Regions from separate parts of the Homo sapiens genome. Here region 2 is linked to region 1. Evidence: fine-mapped expression QTL. A gene starts in region 1. The other region holds a variant in brackets. All regions are shown on one strand. Distances are from middle to middle.

Region 1 (5,368 bases):
AGCACTTTGGGAGGCAGAGACAGAGGCAGCAGGATCACTTGAGGCCAGGAGTTAGAGACCAGCCTGGGCAACATAACGAAACTTCATCTCTACAAAAAATTAAAAATTAGCCAAGTACGGTGGCACATGCCCATGGTCCTAGCTACTTGGGAGGCTGAAATGAGAGGATTGCTTGAGCCCAGGTTGACGCTGCAGTGAGCTATGACTGCCCTTCTGCACTCCCGCCTGGGAGACAAAGTGAGACCTCATCTCAAAAAAAAAAAGAAAAGAAAAGAAAAAAATAAATTTTAAATTTAAAAAAATAGAGACAAGTTTGAACTAGATAATCTCTGAGCTTTTCTAGCTGTATAAATTCCCTAATCTATTAATGTATTCCAAAAGAAAAAGTCCTAAAGTAGACAGTCTCAAAAATCTATACAATTTACATCTTAGCAAGGGCCCTTAAGCCTTTTCTCAAAGCTACTTATTGTAATAAAATCTTCACAAACTTCATTATCTGCTTTCCCATTCCACAACACATCAGAGGCTATAAATTACAAGGTGCCAACAATCGACAGTAAGAGACAGCTGACATCTCTCTGATACTGCAGCCACCAATGACAGCCAACAGGCAAGAAAGAAAGTGGGAAAAACTCTAAAATTAGAGCCCCCAAACTCTGAGCACAGTATTTTGGTGAGAGCAAACAACTCCTACACTCACACACTCAACCATTTATTTACAGCACAGGACGAGTAACATGCACGATGCTGGCCCTCAATCACTAGACTCATTTTATTGGCAATTTTTTTTTAAAGGGAAGAAACCTTAAAAGTGGCTCAAATATTGAAAGACGGTTCAAATATCTTGTTTGGGGTCTATGTATATTTATGTCCTTCTAAACAATGGTTTTAACCACGGTGATTTTGCCCTCGGAAGACATTTAGCAACGTTCAGAGACACTGTTGTTGTCACAACTGCAGCATTGCTACTGGCATCTAGTGGTTAGAGGACAGAGACGCTGCTGAACTTCCAACAATTCACAGGACAGACCCACACCAAATGATCCGGTCCAAAACGTCAACAGTGCTGAGATTGAGAAACCCTGCTCTAAACCTATGTATGGGCTGGGTCGTTGAGCTTTAGCCTCAAGGACTTCCTGATTATCTGCCCCTTGAAATATCCTCTGTGTATACCAGATGGCAGAGGTTCTTTGGTTCATATGCACGAAGTTACTAGCTTTCAATTTTGGTAGATGTCTTTTGGTGGTGGTGGTGGTGGATTTTCAGCAGCAGAATGCTTTTGTTTTTTAAAAATCTTATCTGGAAACCAAATATGCCAAGTAAATATAAGTGGGACTACTGTAATGTGTAGGTGGGGGGGCGGGGGGGGCCCTCCTCTGAGATCCCTAGAACTCTACTGGTCTGGAAACCTCTGGACTAGTATACTGTATCACTAAGGCATTAGAAGAGCTCCAGGAAAAACAGCAACATAGTTAAAAGAATATGTTTAGTTCTCTGGAAACAATTACTTCTGTGGAGTTTCCCACATTCCTCAGAAGTATGGACACACAAGACATTCCTGAATTCACTGAGTGCCTACTGTATACCAAGCAATGTGTTAACACCAGAGATACAGCGAACAAAATGGACGTGGCCCTGCGCTCCTGAAGTTTGCATTCTAATGGCAGATACACAGTAAAATTTAAAATATTTCTATATGAAATATATATTATCAATGACACACACATTGCGTACCAATTGTGTAAAGTTCCACAAAGGAAAACCACAGAATATACAATTGGAGCCCTCATTCCTAAGTACTTCTTGGTCCTGTCCCATAAATTAAAGGCAAAAAGTCTGCGAGTTCCATGGGATCTCAGAAACTGATGGTCGCATAAAACCCTCCGTAATTTCAAAGCCCAGAAATAGAGAATGCAGACAAATTATGAAACAATAACGAAATAAACACCCCCTCTTTGAGGTATCGACTGGGCATTGCCCCCACCCCAGCACATCTCCCTCTAAACCGCCGGGAGTGGGGGCAGGAATGCTCCAAAGCTGAGATCTAAATGTGTCTCTGATTGAACGTCCGTTTTTCAACCAAAGACACCGGTGAGCGAGAGCTGCCAGGTGGCAGTGAAAGGCGAGTGTGAAGTTAACCTGGGGAAGATCGGTGCGTCCAGTACTTCGGCCATAAACCTCCCAGAGCCGACCCGCCTCGCCCGCTGAGAATTTGGGCACTCGCCTAGGTCCGAGCTACTACCCCTTCCCGACCCGCCGGGGTGCTGACTTGGCCGACCCCACAATTTCTCTGCACCCCCAGGGCCAGGAAAGGGCCCTGCCCGTCCACAGCTCCTCTCCACCTTAACCGCGGCCGGACGCCATCTGACAACAGGCGGGAGGAGGGGCCGCCCACGAGGGACGTCGGCCAGGTCCAGGCCTCGTGGGGTCAGGAGGGGCCCGCGGGGCAGGGGCTCAGGACCGCCTCCCTACACCTCGGCACTGCCCGGGGCACGGTAGTCGTGAGGCCCGGCCAACCGCACGCCGCCCCAGGCCCGCGGAGCCCCGCAGAGGCGAGCCCTGGCCGGGCTCCTGTCTGTCGGTACGCCTGGCCGGTACCTGAGAGGGCGCGGAAGAGGCGCGTGGCCGGCAGCAGCAGGTAACACAAGCACGACGCGATCATGGCCGGCCGCCCGCGCCCGCCTCCGCTCCTCACTGCAGCCAGCAGGTCCTCCCTCAGCTCGGCCCCGCCCCCGGCCCGGTCCGGCCCACGTGGTGCCGCCGCCGCGCTTCAACAACAACTTTATTGGGAGCGCAGGTCTACGGGTGCGCACGCAGGAAGTGGGAGGAGCCGGTTCCCATGGCAACTAGCCACCCCTAGCACCCGGCTGCCACCCAGGCGTCCCGAATTAAAATTGAGCGCCTCACTGGAGGCCCCATAGTGTTATTCAAAGGCCACAGTTTATTCCCACTTCTGCAGCTGACTAGGTGTCCACCTTGTTACCACACTATAGCCTCTCCGCCCCTCAGTTTCCTCACCTGTAAAATGAAGAGCTGGACTTTCTCTAAGGCTCCACTGAACCTTGACTTCTAGCCCTTCTCGACCCAGAAAGGAAGCGAGTTATTCCCCCATTTCCCCCGTTTTCCTGCCTCTACTTCCCTGTCTCAGATTCTAGGTCACAAATTGAGTCCTACCTTGCTTCAGGAAGTAAGACTTTGTCTCCTTCCCTACTTTCTAAACGGGCCTTCTTTTCCCTAATCTAGAAAAACAGGGTTTCCCATTGGTAAGGAAGTCAAGAAAGAAAGGAGAGAGGACAAAGAGAGGAGAGAGAGAAGGGAGAGAGGAGAGAGACAGAAGAGAGAAACTTCCACAAGGCCAGGGACCAGTTCTGGCTGGTTGTTTGCTCACTTTGAGGTATCTCTAATACAATCCAAGCACCTATTGTAACCAAGTACCCAGCTTGGAAGTTATATTCTTGTTATATACTTCTATTTCTTTATTTTTGTTCAGTTAACCACTAGGCACCCCCCGACACCCCAGCACCCCCCATACACACTGTTAGCATATCTAATTGTATGTTCGCTTAAAAGTTCCAGAGACTAAATCTTGAAACAATATAGGCATCTGTGGAAATCTCCACCAGGAGATTGATTCAAGGCTACAGTTAATTTATAACTCAGCCCAGCCCGAGATGATGCCAGCCCATTCACCAGATGGGCAGTAACTCAAGACAAGTCATCAGAACTCGTCATGAAGACCTGCACTGCCTCACCCCTTGCATACCCTCCATGCCAAAACTTCTTAAAGCCTCGCATTTTGCTTGGAAATGTGAAGCAGCTCCATTAAAGCAAAAGCCTGGATCGTTTTTCCCCACTGCTAGCTTTGGTTTATAATAAAGTCAGTCTCCTTCTACCATACCACGACCTTGCTCGTTGGTTTTGCAAGCGGCCGAATCTGCATTCGCTAGCACTACTAGCCACCACATAAGCCTTTACTGACTGGTTGAACAAAGCATATGTCACTAAATGAAGGCCAGTTCTGCCATCACTTCTGTGCCACCTGCGACCTCTTTGAGTCTCTCTTCCCCAGTCCCCCTCCCCCAATCTTCTACCCCAAACAGGCTCTGAAGGAGGGACTGGACAATGCACCCAGTTTCAGTACCCAGTGTCTGAGTTGCACGATTTCCAGTTTGTGGCTGGAGCCTTGGTTGTTCAGGGAAGCCTTCTGGGGAGTCACCAGATCCTGGACCAGCTGGGTACATCATAACACTGAAAGGCTAATAGGAGGAAGAAGGAGAGAGTTAGTATTGTGGCCTTCCCACTACTTACCCTTAGTTCTAGAGGTGGCAATGTCTGCCTGCCTTCAGGCAACAGCACTTATCCCTTTGAGATGAAACAGAGGCCCAGCAATCTGAAGGTTGGGAAGCTGCTTAGAAATTAGTGCACAAATGGTGGATCTACCAAAGGCGCTCCCGAGGTCAGGCCCCCTCCTTTGATGTAGCTTAAGTAAAACCCTCCTTGTACCCTCCTTCCATTTTGTACCATGAGTTATCCAGAAGTCCAAGTTCCAAATCAGATCCTAATCAAGGGTAACGGTTCCCTTATCTCCACTGGGAAAATGCTTTCAAAATACAAATTTCTAGGCCCTACTCCCAGAGTTCTGATTTAGCAGCCCTGGAATGAGGCCCTTAAACACTTACTTATTCCAATGCACGGTTTGGGAACCTCTGCTAAAGGATCCAGTCTCAACTGGGCTGTTCAGTGCACAGTGTGGGCACAATGTGTCAGCCCAACTGATCTATGTTCTTTCAGAGGCTTTTTCTGCGGCCAGTTAAGTGAGGCTTCCCTCTTTTTGTTTCCTGGTCCATAATCAGCCGTGTTGGAAGGTGTAGGGTGATATAAGGATCACAAGCTTTGGAGTTAGACCAACTGAGTTGAAATCCTGGCTCTGCCACTTTTTACCTGTGGAATCTCTCAGGTTGCCTAAGCTCTTGGGGCCTCAGTTTCCTCATTGTGCCTGACCCAGTATAAACTCTCAATGTTTACTATTACATTTTTGGATTTGGGCAGAAAAGCAGCTCCAGACGTGGCTGATGTAGGATCTTCTTCCACAATTTCTGGCTAAAATAGAGCTCCTGCCCTCCAAATTGTAATGAGTATTACTAAGCAAGCCAATAACTACAGGTTCCAAGGAGACTTGGCCGAAGGAGTGGAGCCTTAGGCTTCCCCAGTCAGAGGAAAATTACAAGTGCAATCTGCACAGTCTCCAGCCTCATTGTTTCAGAAATATCCCAAGAAGAGAGACGATTCCCTCAATTCATTCCAGCTGTGCTAACAATGAAGACAAGTATGAGCACCTGCATCCATCACTACCATGGTTTCCAGGGTG
Region 2 (5,368 bases), 41 kb before region 1:
CTGAGGGAAGCCTGGGGGTCAGCTGTTCTTGACCTTACCCCCAGCAGCCTCCAGGCTCCCAGGCATCGGGAAACACTGCCTGTTCTCTCCTCTGCCATTTCTGGGCTGGGTGCTGGAAAGTGCGTTCTGGGGAGGAAGACTGTCTGGGTACCTGGAAACCTGTACTGACTAGGTGTGGAGCTGGCAGGAAAGAGAAGACTTGGAGGAGGACCCGGCCCCTCTGTGCATGCCCCAGCCACAGAGCTACAGCAAGACCTGTTCCAAAATATGTCCTTCTGGCCTGCTACCGCTGACTGACTCCTTGACAGTTCAAGTTGGTGCTCTGGAAGGCATGGCGAATATGCCCATGATACTGGGTGGGTCCCCTACCAAGGATGCTCACCCCCCTCAGGACCACTCCCAAAGCCTAGGGCACCACCTGAGAAGATGGGACCCCGGATATACCAGCTTTGATCCGGCGCTTGAACCAGAGCAAACTTCAAACCTAAAATAACCCCAATATTATATTCTTAAGTCTTGAAACTAATGAATATTTAAAATTTAAAATAGTCAGTGAATTAACCTATGTTTTTCTGAAGTTATTAAAGAAGCATAAAATTGGAACATCAGCATACACTCTGAATGAGGAATGCTGTTAAGTCCCAGGAGGGAAGGAATGGCTGGGCTGGGGCCCTGGCAAGAGTCTTCGAATGAGTGGGGTGCCAAGAAAGGAAGCTCAAGTGGGAGGGAGGGGAGGCTGTGCCTCCCCAGGGTGGGGCGCCTCTGGGGCCAGTCCTAGGTGTTTGGTGGACTGGAAGCTCCAAGGTGAGCCTCTTCTTGTGACCGGAGCTCTTTCTCTGTCCCCAGATCCCCATACCGAGTGTGCCTACGTTCCAGCCGTCTACACCTGTCCCTGAGCGCCTGGAAGCTGTGCAGCGCTACATCAGAGAGCTGCAGTATCCTCTCTGGTCAAGGGTCATGGCCACCTTCTGGCCGGTGTGGTGGGCCTTGTTTCCAGGCAGAGCTGGAGAGGTATCAGCAGAGCCGCCTCATTCCACAACGCCAGGGCCACCATTCACGTGACATCTCTGTGCTCCCTGGTGCTGTGGGACGCGGCGCGTGTGCCTCCTGGGTGTCGGAGGAATTTTGTCTGATGAGTGCAGGGCCCACTCTGCACTCTCTGCCACCCCCTTCCCGCTCCTGCCGTGTGATGGGGTAAAGAGAGGAAAATGGGTCCTGAGTGACTTGCTGGTGGGGTGGCCAAGTCTAGATAGATCTGCTCTGTTGTCCACCCAGCCCTAGCAGAGGGGGAGAGAGGGAGCTGCCTTGGGGCTTTTAAAAGTCTGATTTTGAATAAAGGGAAAAATGGCAGAGAAAAAGGATTTTCTGCTCCAGGAGGTAACTTCAGGATCCTAGAATTTTCTCCAGTTCTTCTCCTTTTTTTCCCTGGCAGTAGGATGGTTGGCCAGCAGGGGAAGAGCTGGGCTCCCCTGGGCCCAGATTCCTCTGTGTCCCTGCTCTAGCCCCTGCACCCTGCCCCTGCACCCTGCCCCAGAGCTGTGTGTCCTGGGTCCTCTCTCCCAGGCTTCTGGCTGCAGAGGTCAGAGATGGGAGAGCTAGGCATGGGTCCTGGGTCGGGAGAAGCCAGGCTGATGACTGCATATCGGGTCCAGCTCCTCCTTCTGCCAGTGGGGAAACTGGTCCAGTGAGGCAGGTGGCTGGCTCAGGAGCAATTAAAGGCTGAGTTGGACCCCCTACCCTAGCCTCCTCTCAGTTCCTGTGGCTTCTCAGCTGGTTGGAAGATGAAGTGCTGTAGGGCGCTGTTCCCAGCCACAGCCTCTTTCTGGCCCTCGCCGAACTGGTCGCCTGCTCCATGTCTCTTGTCCTAAGAAGAGAAGCCAGGGGAGAACAAGGGAGAAAGCCAAGGAGGGTGAGGGAGAGGGAAAGAGAAGGAGGCGTGAGGCGGGGAGAAGAATTCATGCTGTGCCCCCATCTCCCCTCCAGGAGACTTGGCTCTTGAGCTTCAGGATAGGCAGGAAGAGAGGGTCAACCTCCTTCAGGCCAAGCTAGGAAGCCCTTAACCCGTGCCCACAGGTACAATCACACAGGGACACAGTTCTTTGAAATTAAGAAGAGCAGACCTCTGACAGGGTAAGTATGGGGAGGCCAGTCCTCTGCCCCAGGGCTGGCTTGGAGCTTCTTGAAAGCCCTATAGTGCACCTTGGAGAGGAAGTTTATGGGGCAGTCAGGGACTCTTCTGAAGGAAGCCAGCCTTTGGGGGCAGGTGCCACCCTGGGGCCTTATGGATGTCATAAAGAGAAAAATCCGGCTGAGATGAACAGCCAGGGCTGCCTTGATGAAAAGGAAATCCCGGGTCCATGCTGAGCTAGAGGGTGGGAGAGCCGCCCCCAGCTCTTGCCTTGGCCAGGAGAGAGGGTGGTCCTAGGTGGATTGTAGGTGAGCCTCAGATCTTTTGTTTTTTAGTGAGAGGTGGACCTTGCAGGAGAGAGCCCTCCCTTCTCTGTTCTGCGGCTGCCGCACTCCCCATTGCTGATTCCCATTGCAGGGTACTTGCATGGTCACCCCATTTGCCTTACTCCGTGGACTCTTTTCTGGGCATTGAGTAGCAGGCTCAGGGTCTGAGCACAGGGAGCTCCCTGGAGAGAATGTTGCATCTCTCACTTCCCATCCCGCC[AC/A]CCCGTGTGTAGCCCCCTGCCTGGATTCACTTCCCCTGGAAAGTTTCTGCCCATGAAGCCCCGAGGGCAGAGGAGAGTGAAGAGTGAATGCCACAGCTGGGTCTAGGGGCTCTGCCCAAAGATGCCCACAGACTTAAGACCCCTGGGCTTTAAAAATTCATGTGAATTGGCCAGGCACGGTGGCTCACACCTGTAATCCCAGCACTTTGGGAGGCCGAGGTGGGCGGATCATGAGGTCAGGAGTTTGAGACCAGCCTGGCCAACATGGTGAAACCCCATCTCTACTAAAAATACAAAAATTAGCTGGGCGTGGTGGTGGGTGCCTGTAATCCCAGCTACTTGGGAGGCTGAGGCAGGAGAATCGTTTGAACCTGAGAGGCGGTGGTTACAGTGAGCCGAGATCACGCCACCGCACTCCAGCCTGGGTGACAGGGCGAGACTCTGTCTCAAAAGAAAAGAAAAAGAAAAAGAAAAAAAATTTCATATGAAGTTTACATCTTGCCCCACACATAATCTATGTTTGCTTCTTTGTGAAAATGCATTTAAATGGCTTATTAGCAAAATTACTTAATTACACCCTCTCCGAGGCCCTGGATGGAGTCCACCCTCCCTATCCCCAAAGCTTTGCTTTTGTTGGCCTGTGGCTGCTGTGTGCTGGGGAACCACTCCAGCCTTACTTGGCATGGAGGAGTCTGGGTGCCCTCCTGGGCAAAGCCAGTGACCAGGCTGAATTCCCAGGCTGGGGACAGAGGGAGGAACCACGCCTCAGGGAAAGGCTGTCTTAAAATGGCCTGAATTCCAAGTTCAGGAGCAGATCTGTAGTCAGCAGGTAACTATCTGCCTAAGATCCCACATCCAGGCTCAGGCAGCTGCGGGGAGGCAGTTGCAGTCAATTAACAAGCTCCTGGGAGAAGCCATGGTTGGGTCAGTGGTGTCTACTGTGCTTCAGAAGGGAAGAGATCGATGCTGACGTCCCTCCTCCCCCGACTGCCTCGCAGAAGGCCCCAGCCTGGTGGCTGGAGAGAAGTTGCCCCCAGCTTCTGCTGCCCTCCCCCAGAGCTCTTTGGAGCAAGAGCCAGGCGTGGGAGGTGGAAGTGAAAGAAGGGAAGAGCAGGGAGAGTGGGCCTCCTTCCTATCAGCAGTGGCCGCCTCTTTCCCACCCCCTCAGGCTCCAGACTTCCGTCCGTCGGGAGTGTGGAGGGAGGTGCTGGGCCTGAGCTGAGAGCAGCTTAGGGGGCAGCCTCTGTCCTTCTAGCATTTCTAGTCCACCCTGCCCCCTCCTTCTCACATTCCCCTGGAGGGGCTGGAGGCGCTGTCCTTACTGACCTGCCTCCCTTTCCCACAGGCTGATGGACCTGGCCAAGGAAATGACCAAAGAGGCCCTGCCAATCAAATGCCTGGAAGCCGTGATCCTGGGAATGTATCCTTCCTCACCTGAAGGGGAGGGGTCCGGGCTTCTCTGGGCCTCAGCTTCCTGCTCTGAAAGTGAGGGTGGGGTAGGTTGAATGGGCTCCAGGGCTCTCCCATATGCAGTCATCTGCTTGGCCCCAAGATGGAGAAGCACCCCACTAAAGTGGAAGAACCCCCCAAAATGGAGGAGCCCCGAGGTCCCAGTACCCCACATCTCAGTTGCTACCTTCCCAGGCTTACTGGGCAGCTCTTTTTTGAGTCACGTGGATACAGGGACCGTTTTCTGAACCCCAAATCAGGGCACAGTGTCTCACAAAGACAGTTGTACCATTTCCAAGAACTAGACAGTCTGGGAGGCACAGTTGGAATGCCCAGATGTTGGCATTTCCAGAACATGTTGATTTCTGGACGAGATATTAAAGCAAAACTGCCTTAAAAAAAAAAAAAACCACAAACAAGGTTTTCCAGTCACACCCCCGCCTCCAACCCAAAGGGCAGAAGTGGGGCCTGTAGCTGAGTCACCAGGGTAGCCTTGGAGACAGACCAGCCACCAGGAGAGGCTGTCCTCCCCAGCCCCACAGTCAACAGCGGGAGAGGAGGAAGTGTTTATGGCTGGTTCTCCATCCTAACTGGTCAATGCCTGAGCCCTACCTTTTCTTCTCAGTCATTTTATTATTAAAAATGTCATAAATACACGTGAAACCTAGAACAACATCATGAACTCCTGTGCACCCGTTACTCAGCTTCACCAACTCAAAGCCAATTCTGTTTCATCTCTTCCACCCTGCCCGTATTCTTTACCAGCTTTTAAACATTTTGCCTGCGCCCCTGGGGTAGGCAGCCCACTGGGCTCAGTGCTGCAGAGGAGCACAGATTAGGTGGGAGCCAAGAGGGTGACGGGGAGGGGGTCTGATGGAACAGGAGTCCCATCTGAGGGCAGGTCCTGGGAGGACTGTGATCCAGGGGTCCATCCCCACCCCCCACACAGACATGCCTGCCTGAAGTTCACACAAAGAGGCTGCGGGTGCCCTTCTCTTCCCGCAGAGGTCTCGGAGGGAACGCCACTATGGCAGGCATTTGCTAACAGGGCAGGCCCATTTCTGGAGCCCGACATCCCTGCCCTGTTTATGGGGTTCTTTGCTGGGATAAGCCTGAGGCCACCCGAGAAATTCAGGCTGCAGGCAGTGCCTCCTTCATGTCTTCACGTTCACTTCTCCCTCAGGGGTCACACACCAAAGTGGAGGCTCCCACCCTCATAGGAGAGAGACTGGTCCTTTTCCCCA

Direction of the effects. Positions count from the first base shown, and alleles are read on the strand shown. Sizes are in standard deviations (SD) of each study's normalised expression.
For the expression in prostate of the gene that starts at base 2,717 in region 1, allele A in region 2 goes with a lower level than allele AC (small effect, 0.39 SD a copy in GTEx).

The links. PIP is the estimated chance that this variant, and not a neighbour inherited with it, causes the effect. A credible set is the group of variants that fine-mapping cannot tell apart.
Region 2: its variant is the best candidate, but not a certain one, in a credible set for the expression of ANGEL1 in prostate (GTEx, PIP 0.85).

The regions. Positions count from the first base shown.
Region 1 is chr14:76,810,166-76,815,533 of GRCh38, forward strand. ANGEL1 (angel homolog 1) reads right to left here and starts at 2,717. Exons shown (of 10, transcript NM_015305.4): 1 at 2,599-2,717. The coding sequence starts at 2,662. RefSeq lists enhancers at 1,758-2,332, 2,333-2,906 and a silencer at 2,355-2,784.
Region 2 is chr14:76,769,117-76,774,484 of GRCh38, forward strand. VASH1 (vasohibin 1) reads left to right here. Exons shown (of 7, transcript NM_014909.5): 2 at 847-935; 3 at 2,074-2,130; 4 at 4,021-4,095. Among named protein-coding and RNA genes, the nearest start is that of VASH1, 10 kb to the left of the region's middle. The variant AC/A (reference allele first, on the strand shown) is at 2,675.